Linked DNA regions of Homo sapiens. The protein of the gene in region 1 interacts with the protein of each later gene in a pairwise test. Each region holds a gene or a part of one and is shown on either strand. Other genes may lie near its edges.

Region 1 (6,905 bases):
TGGGTGCAGTGGCTCATGCCTGTAATCCCAGCACTTTGGTAGGCCGAGGCGGGCAGATCACTGGAGGTCAAGAGTTTGAGACCAGCCTGGAAAACATGGCAAAACCCCATCTCTACTAAAAATACAAAAATTAGCCAGGCGTGGTGGCACACGCCTGTAATCCCAGCTACTTGGAAGGCTGAGACGGGAATCTCTTGAACCTGGGAGGCAGAGGTTGCAGTAAGCCGAGATTGCACCACTGCACTCCAGCCTGGGTGACAGAGCGAGACTGTCTTAAAAAAAATAAAAAATCTAGAAGTCATCTGTGATTCCTCCCTTTCTTTTATTCTTCACCTCCAACCCATAAGTCAGTAATATCTTCAGGACACAGGCTGAACCCATCCACTTCTCACCATCTCTGCTGTGAACCCCTCGGCTGAGCACTCCTCATGCCTCCCTGCCTCTCACAGTGGAAAGACATTCTGGTGAGGGGGATGGTATGTGCAAAGTCCAGAAGAGGCACACCGGGAGCAGGGGTGTCAGCGCAGCAAACATGAAGACAGCATAAGAGTGCAGGGAAATTAGGTTGAGACCAGACCACGAAGAGACTGGAAGCCATGTAGAGAGCCAATACCACAAGAAAAGTGAAGTTTAGGGGCTCAGCATGGCAGCACAGGTCAGATGGAGTGGAGGGGTAGGGAGGGTGTGGAGTGGGGAAGCAGCAAGAGGCTGGATTTGAGGTTCTGAGGTCACGGTGCTGAGGTAGAGGGTGGGGTAGAAATGGAAAAGATGAGCAGACACTAGCAGCATTTAGAGAAAAAGATCATCAGAACGTGGAATATGGAGGAGACAGAAGAAAAAAGAATGAAAAGTGCTTCTTGGAGAAGAATGAGGGCTGAAGGAGAGAGCTGGGACAGTGATTTGCTGGGGGAACTGGGCAGAGTTCTGGGGAAGAGTAGGGGTCTTTCATGGGGTCCCACGCCTGGGTCACAGAGAGAACCAAGACCTTCATGAACTGGCTTCTGTGGTTCTGAGACTGATGGCCGGGAAGGGAGTGGGAGGTCAAAGGTTTTCAAGGGCCCTTTTCCCAGGAGGCCAGTGCTGTGTCGGGGGATGGGGTCTCACCTGCCTGCGCTCCGTCCTGTCCAGGTCGTGGATGAACTGTAAAGTACAGGAAAAGGCTGGTGAGACCTGCCCTGACCCTCTGCCACCTGCCCCTCTCCTCCTGGGTATGGCTCACCCATCACCCACCTTCATAATGGGCTGCGATCGCTCTTCGAGCCCGTGTTTTCCGGCCTTTAGGTGCTGAGGATCAAGGAAAGACAGATGAGCAAAGCGGGCCCTAGTGGGGGTCCCAGAGCAACTCTCCCAGCCCCATTCCCCTCTCAGGAACCCTGGCATCCTTATTCTTGTCCAGACTCCTGGCCTTAGAATCTCAGGCCTCATCTTCCTCAGTAAGTAGAGTGACTATAATTTGTCATCCACACTGGGATACTGCTGAGAGCAAAACGGGAAGCTGCTATTAATCACACCGAGATAACAGGTGGGGGCCAGGACAACTGCATGCCGACTTGGACACGTGGTCATCCGGCCACCCCATCATCCCATTCCTAAGTCTCTTTGCCTACCGGGGCCCAGGCCTCTGACTGCCAGGCCTAGTCTCCATCAGGATCCCAGTAGTTCTTCTAACTCATGGCCACCCTGCCTTCCTGTTTGGGGTAGGGTCTGAAGGAGCACATCCATATGACAGAAGGAGCTTCAGAGGAGGGCGAGAATCCCTAGGTTTGAGTCTTGGCTGGTTAGCTGCATGACTCTGAACTCCTTTCACCCTCCGTGCCTCAGTTTCTCCCTGTGGATAATGGTTTTTGCTCTGCCCGCTTCCTGAGGTTGGGATAGAGGGATGCTCACCACTTCTGCGAGGCCGAACTAGTCGGTTCAGGAAAGGCGCAGGATCCTGGCTTTCTTCTGTCTGGGGATTCAGTTCCTAGGGGAATTAGGGCAGGGTTCAACCACAGACTCCCAGAGATATAAAGTGAGACATACGGGGCCTGTCAGGAGAGCCACCAGCCAGCAATAGACACAGAAGTCAGGGACAGATTAAGCCCCTCAGCCAACTACAGCTGGGGCCCCGGGCAAAGGTGAAGCTGGGAGTCAGGCCCCAGTCCTCACCCTTTCCTCTAGACCAGCTACACTTTCCCACCCACACACACAACCAACGCAGACCCTGCATTCAATTGGCACATTGCACACATGCCCGCACCCAGTCACCACGCACAGAGGATACACACCCTGTACACAACCGCACCCCTCTTCCACGCAGACTCACATATCTTATACAACCACGTCACCCCCAGCCAATAAACACCTCAGACTCAGGTGGCACAACCCCAGCACAAACCCCTCACACAGAGTTGTCACCACGCACACACACCCCTGCAGACACGCACCCATGCACGCACTGTGTTCACACACACCCTGCACACACCTCGAGTACGGCTGGCACAGCTGCACACACCTGCAGCCTCGGCTGTGCACACTTCCCATGCCCCAGCAGCCTGCAGACCGCGCCCACGCCCACTCACCGACGGGTCCTGGTCCTCCTCTGCCACCAGCTCCTCCTGGGCAGGCTCCTGCTGGGAAGGAGGGAGCGTCACCCTGTGCCGCTCCACCTGACATCTCACCCTCCACCCATCCTCCCTTCCCCTTGCCTTCAGCCCACGCGGCCCCCAGCGGCCCCTCTGCAGTCTCAGCTCCTGATGTGCCCAAGAAGGGGTGCGCAGCGGGGCCTCACCTGGGCGGACAGCGATGCCCGGCTCCCCAAACTGACCACGGCCAGCAGGAGGCCGAGGCAGGCCAGCGCCAGGCCCAGGCCCAGCGCGAGCGGGACCAGCAGGGCGGTGCCCGGCTCCCCCCGGCGCCCCCTCCGCCTCTGGCTCCGACGGGCGGCCATGGGGGCGGGGGGCTGTGCCTGCCTCACCGCCCCCCCATCCCGGGACCCGAGGGATCGGGGGAGGGGGAGCCGGCGGGCGGATCGGGCCGGGGAGAGGGAGGGGCAAGGGAAACGGGGCGGGAGGGGGCGCTGGGGACAGGAAGCCGGACGCTGTGTGTGATCAAACTCCGAGCCTCTCGCCGGGCGCTGTGCGCGCAGCGAACGGAGTGGGCGCCCACCCGACCTCTGAGCGCCCAGCCCGGGCGTGCACCACCAGGGCGAGGTCCGTTGCGTGCGGCCGCGGGAGCGACGGGGCTATGCGTGTGCGGGCACCTCCTGCGGGGAGGTGGGGAACTCAGGAAGGCCTGTTGGTTCAGATTCTTCTGTGTCCCTGTGTCTTCAGAGATAAGGACCCTCCTTTCCCCCAGGTGCAGGGAGGGCGCCTCTCGCAGGAGGCTGTTATTTGCTTCTTCAGGAAAAGGGCAGGGAGTTCCAGGTTGTATGACCTGGTTCAGGGAAGAAGGGCAGGAGAAGGTAAGAAAGATCCTTCGGCTTCTGCGGTTTTCTCAAATTCCTTCAGCTTAAAACACTCACTGTGCCGGTAGCACGTTCTGAAGCCCATCATTACCAATGATTGCCAAGCATCTGAGGAGGACCAGCAGCATGCAAAAGAAACACCAAAATTGGTCCGGCAGGTGGCTTACGCCTGTAATCCCAGAAGGCCAAGGCTGGGGGCCAGGAGTTCAAGATCAGCCTGGGCAAGAGCAAGACCCCATCTCTACAGAAAAGTTTTAAAAAATTAGCCCACGCCTGTAGTCCCAGCTACTCAGGAGGCCGAGGTAGGAGGATTGTTTGAGCCCAGGAGTTTGAGGCTGCAGTGAGCTGTGATTGCACCACTACACTCCAGCCTGGGCAACAGACCTTGTCTCAAAAAGAAAGAAAGAAAGGAAGAAAGAAAGAAAGGAGGGAGGGAGGGAGGGAGGGAAGGAGGGAAGGAAGGAAGGAAGGAAGGAAGGAAGGAAGGAAGGAAGGAAGGACCAAAATTGGCTGGGCGCGATGGTTCACGCCTGTAATCGCAGCACTTTGGGAGGCTGAGGCGGGTGGATCACGAGGTCAGGAGATCGAGACCTGCCTGGCCAAGATGGTGAAACCCTGTCTCTAATAAAAATACAAAAAAATTAGCCGGACGTGGTGGCAGGCGCCTGTAGTTCCCAGCTACTCGGGAAGCTGAGGCAGAGAATTGCTTGAACCCAGGAGACAGAGGTTGCAGAGAGCTGAGATCACGCCACCACACTCCAGCCTGGGCAACACAGCAAGACCCTATCTCAAAAAAAAAAAAAAAGAAAGAAAGACCAAAATTAACAAACAAAATTTGACATTGGAGGAAACAGAGATAATTCAGGATACAAAGAGTACTACCTAATATACTTAAAGAGAGTCAAGAAAAAGCATCCATAGAGCTGGGCATGGTGGTGCATGCCTGTAGTCCCAGCTACTCAGGAGGTTGAGATGGGAGGATCACCTGAGCCTGGGAGGTTGAGGCTGCAGTGAGCTGTGATCACACCACTGCATTCCAACACGAGCAACAGAGTAAGACCCTGTCAAAAAAAAAAAAAAAAAAAAGAGTATGCAAAGAAAGAAAAGCAGTTAGAATCTCCAGAAAATTTTCAAAACTGAAATCACAATGTAAATAAGAAACAGCTGGGGCCAGTTGTGGTGGCTCACGCCTGTAATCCCAGCACTTTGGGAGGCCAAGGTCGGTGGATCACAAGGTCAGGAGTTCAAGACTAGCCTGGCCAAGATGGTGAAACCCTGTCTCTACTAAAAAAACAAAAATTAGCTGGGCACGGTGGCGGGCACCTGTAATCTCAGCTACTCGGGAGGCTGAGGCAGAGAATTGCTTGAACCCGGGAGGTGGAGGTTGCAATGAGCCGAGATCGCATGACTGCACTCCAGCCTGGGCGACAGAGCAAGACTCCATCTCAAAAAAAAAAAAAAAAAAAAAAAAAAAAGCAACAAAACAGGCTGGGCATCATGGTGTGCACCTGTAGTCCCAGCTACTGGGGAAACTGAGGCAGGAGGATCGCTTGAGCCCAGGAATTCCAGGTTGCCATGAGCTATGATCTGGGCACTGAACTCCAGCTTGGGCTGCAGAGGAAGACCCTGTCTCAAAAAAAAAAAAAGATAATAAATAAATAATAAAATAAAAATAAATAAATACGGGCAGGGCATCATGGCTCACGCCTGTAACCCTAGAGCTTTGAGAGGTTGAGACGAGAGGATCTCTTGAGGCCAGGAGTTCAAGACCAGCCTGGGCAAAATAGTGAGAACCCCTTTCCATCTCTACAAAAAATACAAGAAAAATTATCCAGGTGCGATGGCATGCTCCTGTAGTCCCAGCTACTGTGGAGGCTAAGTCAGGAGGATCACTTGATCCCAGGAGTTTGAGGTTGCAGTGAGCTATGATCACCCCATTGAACCGAAGCCTCGGCAGCAGAGTGAGACCCTGTCTCTATAAAAAATAAAATAAATAGGCCGGGCACAGTGGCTCATGCCTGTAATCCCAGCACTTTGGGAGGCCAAGGTGGGTGGATCACCTGAGGTCAGGAGTTCGAGACCAGCCTGGCCAACATGTAGTGAAACACCATCTCTACTAAAAAATACAAAAATTAGCTGGGCATGGTGGTGCACGCCTGAAGTTCCAGCTACTTGGGAAGCTGAGGCAGGAGAACTGCTTGAAATAAAATAAATAGGCCGGGCGCAGTGGCTCATGCCTGTAATCCCAGCACTTTGGGAGGCCAAGGCAGGTGGATCACGAGATCAAGAGTTTGAGACCAGCCTGGCCAACATGGTGAAACCCTGTCTCTACTAAAAATACAAAAATTAGCCGGGCATGGTGGCGCACGCCTGTAATCCCAGCTACTCGAGAGGCTGAGGCAGGAGAATCACTTGAACCTGGGAGGCAGAGGTCGCAGTGAGGCGAGATTGTGCCACTGCACTCCAGCCTGGGCGACAGAGTGAGAGTTCATCTCTCAGAAAAATAAAAATAAAAAATAAAATAAAATAAATGAAACACAAGCTATAACACAACATAATTGTATTTAATTGATACAGTATCAATTTAGGGCCTTAGTGCTTGCTTGCCACATTGTCCTTTGAGTGACACATGGATTATGGGATGGAGTGTGTGGAGAAGCAAGTGTAATTCCAGCCCATTGTTTGGCCTGAGGGTAAACAACGTTCATGTGGCCATAATAATGTAAATATCTTTGACTGGATTTCAACTTTTAGAGTCAACCTGTAGAAAAATCCAGAAGACTTAATGGCAGCAAAGACTGCAAATGCCCACAATTTTCACTTTTTTTTTTTTTTTTTTTTTTTTTTTTGAGACGGAGTCTCGCTCTGTCACCCAGGCTGGAGTACAGTGGCACAATCTTGGCTCACTGCAACCTCTCCCTCCCAGGTTCAAGTGATTCTCCTGCCTCAGCCTCCTAAGTAGCTGGGATTACAGGCGTGCACCACCATGCCTGGCTAATTTTTGCATTTTTAGTAGAGACAGGGTTTCACCATGTTGGCCAGGCTGGTCTCAAACTCTTGATCTCGTGATCCACCCGCCCTGGCCTCCCAAAGTGCTGGGATTACAGGCATAAGCCACCGCGCCCGGCCTATTTTTTTTTAAGATGGAGTTTCACTCTCATCACTCAGGCTGGAGCGCAATGGTGTGATCTCAGCCCACTGCAACCTCTGCCTCCCGGGTTCAAGCGATTCTCCTGTCTCAGCCTCCTGAGTAGCTGGGATTACAGGCACCCACCACCATGCCAGGCTAATTTTTGTATTTTTGGAAGAGACGGGGTTTCACCATGTTGGTCAGGCTGGTGTCGAACTCCCAACCTCAGGTGATTCACCCGCCTCAGCTTCCCAAAGTGCTGGGATTACAGGCGTGAGCCACTGCACCCAGCCTCTACTTGATTTTTATTATCAGGTGAATGCAGCATTT
Region 2 (5,832 bases), on another chromosome or scaffold:
GACTAATTTAAACCTACAAAGGAAAACTAAACTTTTTTCTCATTCTAAAAAACTTCTTACCATCTTGTTTCTACAACCAAATGATTCATATTAGTGCTTGGTTTACTGAGTTACAAAAAAAGTTGGGTCAAAAGGCTAAAATGATAGAATTATTTCTTAATCAACAATATTGGAAATGTGTCCTAAAAACCTGGAAGCTGAACATTCTGTCCACCTGCTTTTAGAAAAGCCAAGTTCACCTCAAGAATGTGTCAAACACATCATCTAAATAATCCAAGACCTAGAATGCATCAATCAATGTGACAGAATTTCCAAAAAGCAGATTGGAATTAAGTCTTCAAAAAAGACAGTTGTTACTATATAATTCTACAGGTGGACATGAAGCAGAACTTGGTAAACAAAATTTTATATTAAAATATGCATTTTCATATGATTCACCATGGAATTGAAACATTATAAAGATCATTTCTGCTACCACTATTTAAACGTTATTACCCACTTGAATTGAAAAAAGATGAAAGGACACAAAGTGAACAGACGATAACTTTATTGGAGATTTACTTGGCTACAATTATTACAAAAAAAACAACTAAAGGTAATTGTGATCCATAAGGTGCAGACTGCAAATTTCTGCAGCATGATTACTGTATGAATGAATGACATCATGTTCCTTAAAAAACAGCTGCAGCATGTGATGGTAAATATTTTATTGTCAATCAAATAATATGCATTAGTTTTACTTGATTTTAGTAATTTTCCTTCACTATTTACAGCAGAAAAGCCAGAAATTTACTTCCTGTTCACCTTTGCATTTTTGCTATGTAACCTGCTGCTGCAGTGAATTCTTAGTGCATCTATAAAATTTAAATTGTCTGTGGTTGATGTCCAAATAAAAATGGACTAGAAAAAAAGAAGTAATGATTAAAATATATTTACAAGTTAGTTGTGAAAAATCATTTTCACTGCTAGTGGAAAATACAATGGTCTCAATGCAAATTTCCTAGATATTGCTATTGGCGTCTCCAACAACTTTAAAAATCATTTTAATAGTCTTGGTCTTAAACATATCTTTAAAACTTTTCATGTACAATATAAAATAAAGAAATTTATCTGGAAATAATTAAATTCCTGAAAAGTAATCAGTGGTTGGAAAAATATAATTATTCAAATGTAATTAAAACAACCATATAGGTAATAAACATGACATGAGTTTCTCTTCTGCAGATAATGCAAATGGGTTAAAGACTCTTAACATAATTTCAGATGCAGTTAAAAAAAGGTATCAAGGTCTCAGTTTGGTGGCTTCAATCTTGTGTAAAGGGATTAGACACCCTAACAGAGCAAGATCCAATATTTTAAATCAACGGGGCCTTGTGCATGAACTGCGCTCGATCTGGATTCCAGTGATCCTCTGCAGTGCCCACCTGCCTCCAGGGAGCGACTGAAGAAGCCGACTGCCGGGGGAACACCTGGATTCATGAACCAAAGCAGCCTCAAGTTTCATGTTGTCAAGGCAGGGTATCAGAATCTTTCTGAGGGCAAAGTATTATTAACAAATAAAAATATCAGTATTTTAAAAGACAATTACAGGAGTGTTAGAGGTCATTCTAAATTTCATCACTTCACGTAATATAAAAGAAAAAAGAAAAGAAATATAACAAACATTTTAAAAACATAATTAAGAGTTCAGTTAACAAATCTGTTTCATACTTTCACAAACAGTAAAAATGCCACAGACAAAAATGACCTATTTAAGTTGTGCGAGTATATGACACATTGCAGGCATTATAATTATCTTTTTCAAATTCCATAAATCAAAACAGCAGCAAGGCCAAACCACATTTTTTTCCTCTCTGTTAAGCATATTTTCTTGAAATGAGGTAAAGCATGGTACCAAGTGCAATGCTTATCTGTGCTACATGAACAGAACAGAAGGGAAAAAGCTATTATAAAACGCAGCATAGTTAGGACTGCGGAAAGCATATTATAAAAGAAATTTTAAAAAATTTACAAATGAAGGTTCATGTTAACTAACTTGCACACAATCATCATAAGGAATTTCTGCAGTTGCTTTTTCAAGACACGCCTCCCCAGTCCTTTACACACGTGCTCAGGGCACAACCACACCCCACTGGTAGGTTTTCCATATTACATTCGGTCTCACATTGCAATCACAGGAACACAGGGTGGCACACAGGGCTCTAAAGTGGGGCAACATAGAGTGATTTTTTTTTTCCTTAATTGACAGATGCAAAACATTTCAACAAGCTAAACACAGGAAAACTTTACAGCATTAAAAATCAGCAGCACAAAAGCGTTCATAACCATTTCATATGTCTAACTCGTACTTTTTTATTTTTTAACTCAGTAACCAGGGGATCACAGAATGCTTCAAACTGTGAGTCAAATTAAAATCTACTATTTTTCTCCAACAAAAAGTGAAACGGCTGAAGTTTGCTGTTGATAAAACATTTGAATGGTAGAAGGAAATTTGAACCCCTGAGAATGTATGACCTAATCATGTCTAAGTTTGAACATCTTAGTATTAACAAAAAAATACTCTTCTTAAGGTTACAAATATATTGAGGCATTTTTCTCCCACTGGGAATCATAACTGTGAAAACAATCTGATTTTGGTGCCAGGAATCAAGAGAATCCCGTAACACTGGGATCAATGTATTAGACACAATGCAAAGCCCTAAGCTCCTGGCATCAGGTAGTTTATAAATATTAAGAGATTTGTGATTAAACTTGATCACAAATCACCCTCAGAATAAAATTCACATCCAGCCTTGTTAACTGCACACTTTTACAGTTATATAATTCAAGAATTGCTTTGTTTTAACTGGTCATATCTTACATTAAGGTTTTTTAAAAAATCAAATAGACATCTAAGGTTCCAAATCGGAATTAAATATTTTTAAAACAAGTCACCTAATTTGCTCAAAAACTCGTTTAATAATTTAGATCTCAATTTAAGTTTAAGATTGGAGACAACAAAAAACACTGGAGAAGCTTAATACCCCCCTCACTCAGGGTTCCTTAGAAAGCAGAGCTGACAGTTTTCTGTCGGTGCACTCGCACAGAGGCATTTCTCTGTGGGTGGATGATGCAGATAAAGCAGGAAGGACAGTATTCAAATGTCACTTACATATAAATGCAGCATTCCACGAAGCATCAAGTTCAGAATCATGTGCTGGGAAATATGAGACACCTCTGCTCAGCTTTCTTAAACTTCAAGCATAATTAACGGGGCAAATTGCAGCAAACCTCTACTGGTATGTTGATGGGAGTGCAAGACTGACCCACAGCTTTTAAAAAGGTAAATTAAGAGGTATTATAGTTACAGTGCAAAAAAAAAAAAATTAAAATTTCAAGCATAATACATAAACATAGCACCAAACAGGGGAAAAATGCATGCAAAAGAAAAGAAGAACTGAGGTATTTAAGTGAAGAGTGCCTACAAGTCTAATTAAAGAAACTTAGGCAAATGCCTAAAGAAGTTTTTTTTTTTTTCCTTTTCCAAAGATGGAAATAATGAGCTAGTTTATCTAAATTAATGACCTAAATCACAGATGTATCAAAATTACGGCAGTTTATCGCAAACGTTAAACTTTCACGGCATTAACAGCACAGCTTTGGTAGGTGAAATATGCATGCAACATTATGAAAAGTATAGTAAGAAATTTATGTGAGGAGACTAAGGGTAAAGGTGCTGTGTTTTGCTTCTTAAATAAGTAACCAATCAATTATAAAATCTGCAGCATATTTTAGGTGTGATATGTCTAAGGTTTATTTTGTTAGAGCAACAGCCTAGAAGGCAAAATTATTTGCCATAAACATTTCCATCAGTGGGAACTACCTGGCAGGAGGACTTTAGTAAAATGGGGTGTTTAGCCAAAGATCATTTTTATGATAAAAAATATCCGTAGACTACATATTCTGGTTTTTAAAATGTCTTCAGTATACATATGACAGAAATTTTAGTATGATCCTGTAATAAGTTACAACTATACTAGTGAGTTGTAAGTATCACGCTGTCTCAACGTCTAATGCATAATAAAATGAAAGGAATGTAAAACAGTTTGTTCCAAAAAGATCAGAGATTAAAGACTATCCATGAAGGTTTCACTTTTAAGGCAAGAACCCTTTTTTATGCAAGACTATGTGGCATCAGAAAACTAAAATGTGATTCACCAACATGCCAGCCAATGTTCATTAAAAATCTGTCCCTTACTATCAGGTGCAACAGCGACCGGGAACATCACCTTACACAGTATAACGTGGAAAGAAAAGACAACATTGGCGCACTTCTCCTCTCGAAAACCTTATCTTTCTATTCAGCTTATCAACTACTGCAGGACTGGCACTACTGCACACACGGAGAGATGGAGAAGAATCTACATCATCCTAGGGACTGCTGGAGGTTTAAGCTCCATGGCCTTCTAACACTAAGCAAAGCTGACATAAACTCAAAAAAAAAAAAACAAAACCTGTCAATTATTTTGAGCACTTGCTAAATGTCATCATTAAAGCACTCTTGTGATTTAAACAAAGCAGAAGTGAGGAAAGAAGATAAGATTGTGTTTGCGCAAAAAACTAAAACTACAATTAGTTCCAAAATTTTATACATATGTTAAATGTTTTATTCTGTTATCTATCCTGTTATCAACCAAACTTTAAATTCTGCCTTCAATTCATTCCACTCACTAACAACTTTAAGTCTTCCTTTCCGATTTAAATAATTTTCCCCTTAATTTTTTTTGTTTTGTTTCTTGTTTTGAATTTTAAAAAGCGGTTTCAGCTATTGGGAACCTGAGGTTGATTAGCTTTGAGGCTTCGGAGGGCTCTTCTTGCTGCTGCAGATTTGGCAATCCTGTAACTTCGACCAACACCTTTAAATTTCCCCTTTCCTACTACTTCCACAGTGACTCTGACCTTCCCGTCGTAAGTTCTCTCAGCCGGGCTGTAAAAAATCCAAACAGCTTGAATTAGAAGTCAGAAGTATTTATTATCATTGTCAATCAGCATTTAGTGTGCACTCTCAGGCCAGGAGTCCCATGTATAAGCTGACACCACACAAAGGAAACACGCGTTACGACTTACTGCAATTGCATACCCCCGACAGACAGGGCTGCCGTCTAGTCTTTATTACAGCATTATTTCATAAAAACAGAAGGAAAAAAGAGAAGTCAATCAGATTACAAACAGAAATCTGACAACAGCACACCACAGTGTAAATATTTTTCAGAATCATTAGTTTACAATATCTTTGTGAACTTTTCCCCTTTGATGTTTTTAAGTTAATGTTTTTTCCATGTACATTTTTTGCTTACCTAAATTTGGCAGTTTCTGGTTCCATTTCAAGCAATTCTCGCACAGGGGAACGGGGTACATTTGCAGAAAACTTTTCTGCAATCAAAATGAAAGAATAATATGAATAATATCTCTGAAGTTGTTTTTAATTTTGTGGGTTTTTTTCTTTCTAAAGGGAGCCAACAATACCTATTAGTGGCCGCATCATGGGATAGTACACCTGCCAGACTGTCTCCAGTGACATCCCACTATCCATGTAAATGGCACCAGCAAGCGACTCAAAAATATCCCCCATGGCCTTTGGAACTTCAATATCCTCTTCTTTCTCTTCATCCTCCTCAGATCTCCTAAGCTATTACAGAGGGAAAAGTGACTTGTAAGCAAAAAGGCCACTTTTACAGGCAGTCCACAGATGTAGTTTCTTTTCTTGGATATATGACTTTTGTTACTTCTTTAGTAAGGGGGGAAATACCATTTATGGTATGCCTACTATATTGTAATAGTAAAACAAATGTT

The links. Proteins that work in one complex are often made in the same cells at the same time.
Region 2: the proteins of TNFSF12-TNFSF13 (region 1) and DICER1 interact in binary tests that used the Homo sapiens proteins (3 or more experiments, as listed by UniProt).

The regions. Positions count from the first base shown.
Region 1 is NC_000017.11:7,545,178-7,552,082, reverse strand, and holds the start of TNFSF12-TNFSF13 (TNFSF12-TNFSF13 protein), read right to left. Parts: upstream 3,026-6,905; 5' UTR 2,930-3,025; coding exon 2,771-2,929; intron 2,610-2,770; coding exon 2,562-2,609; intron 1,964-2,561; coding exon 1,888-1,963; intron 1,285-1,887; coding exon 1,231-1,284; intron 1,141-1,230; coding exon 1,105-1,140; intron 1-1,104. Other genes in the region: TNFSF12 (tumor necrosis factor ligand superfamily member 12 proprotein), read right to left, coding at 1,105-1,140, 1,231-1,284, 1,888-1,963, 2,562-2,609, 2,771-2,929. UniProt on the Homo sapiens protein: Binds to FN14 and possibly also to TNRFSF12/APO3. Weak inducer of apoptosis in some cell types. Mediates NF-kappa-B activation. Promotes angiogenesis and the proliferation of endothelial cells. Also involved in induction of inflammatory cytokines.
Region 2 is NC_000014.9:95,085,698-95,091,529, forward strand, and holds the end of DICER1 (endoribonuclease Dicer), read right to left. Parts: intron 5,669-5,832; coding exon 5,506-5,668; intron 5,413-5,505; coding exon 5,337-5,412; intron 4,967-5,336; coding exon 4,801-4,966; 3' UTR 531-4,800; downstream 1-530. UniProt on the Homo sapiens protein: Double-stranded RNA (dsRNA) endoribonuclease playing a central role in short dsRNA-mediated post-transcriptional gene silencing.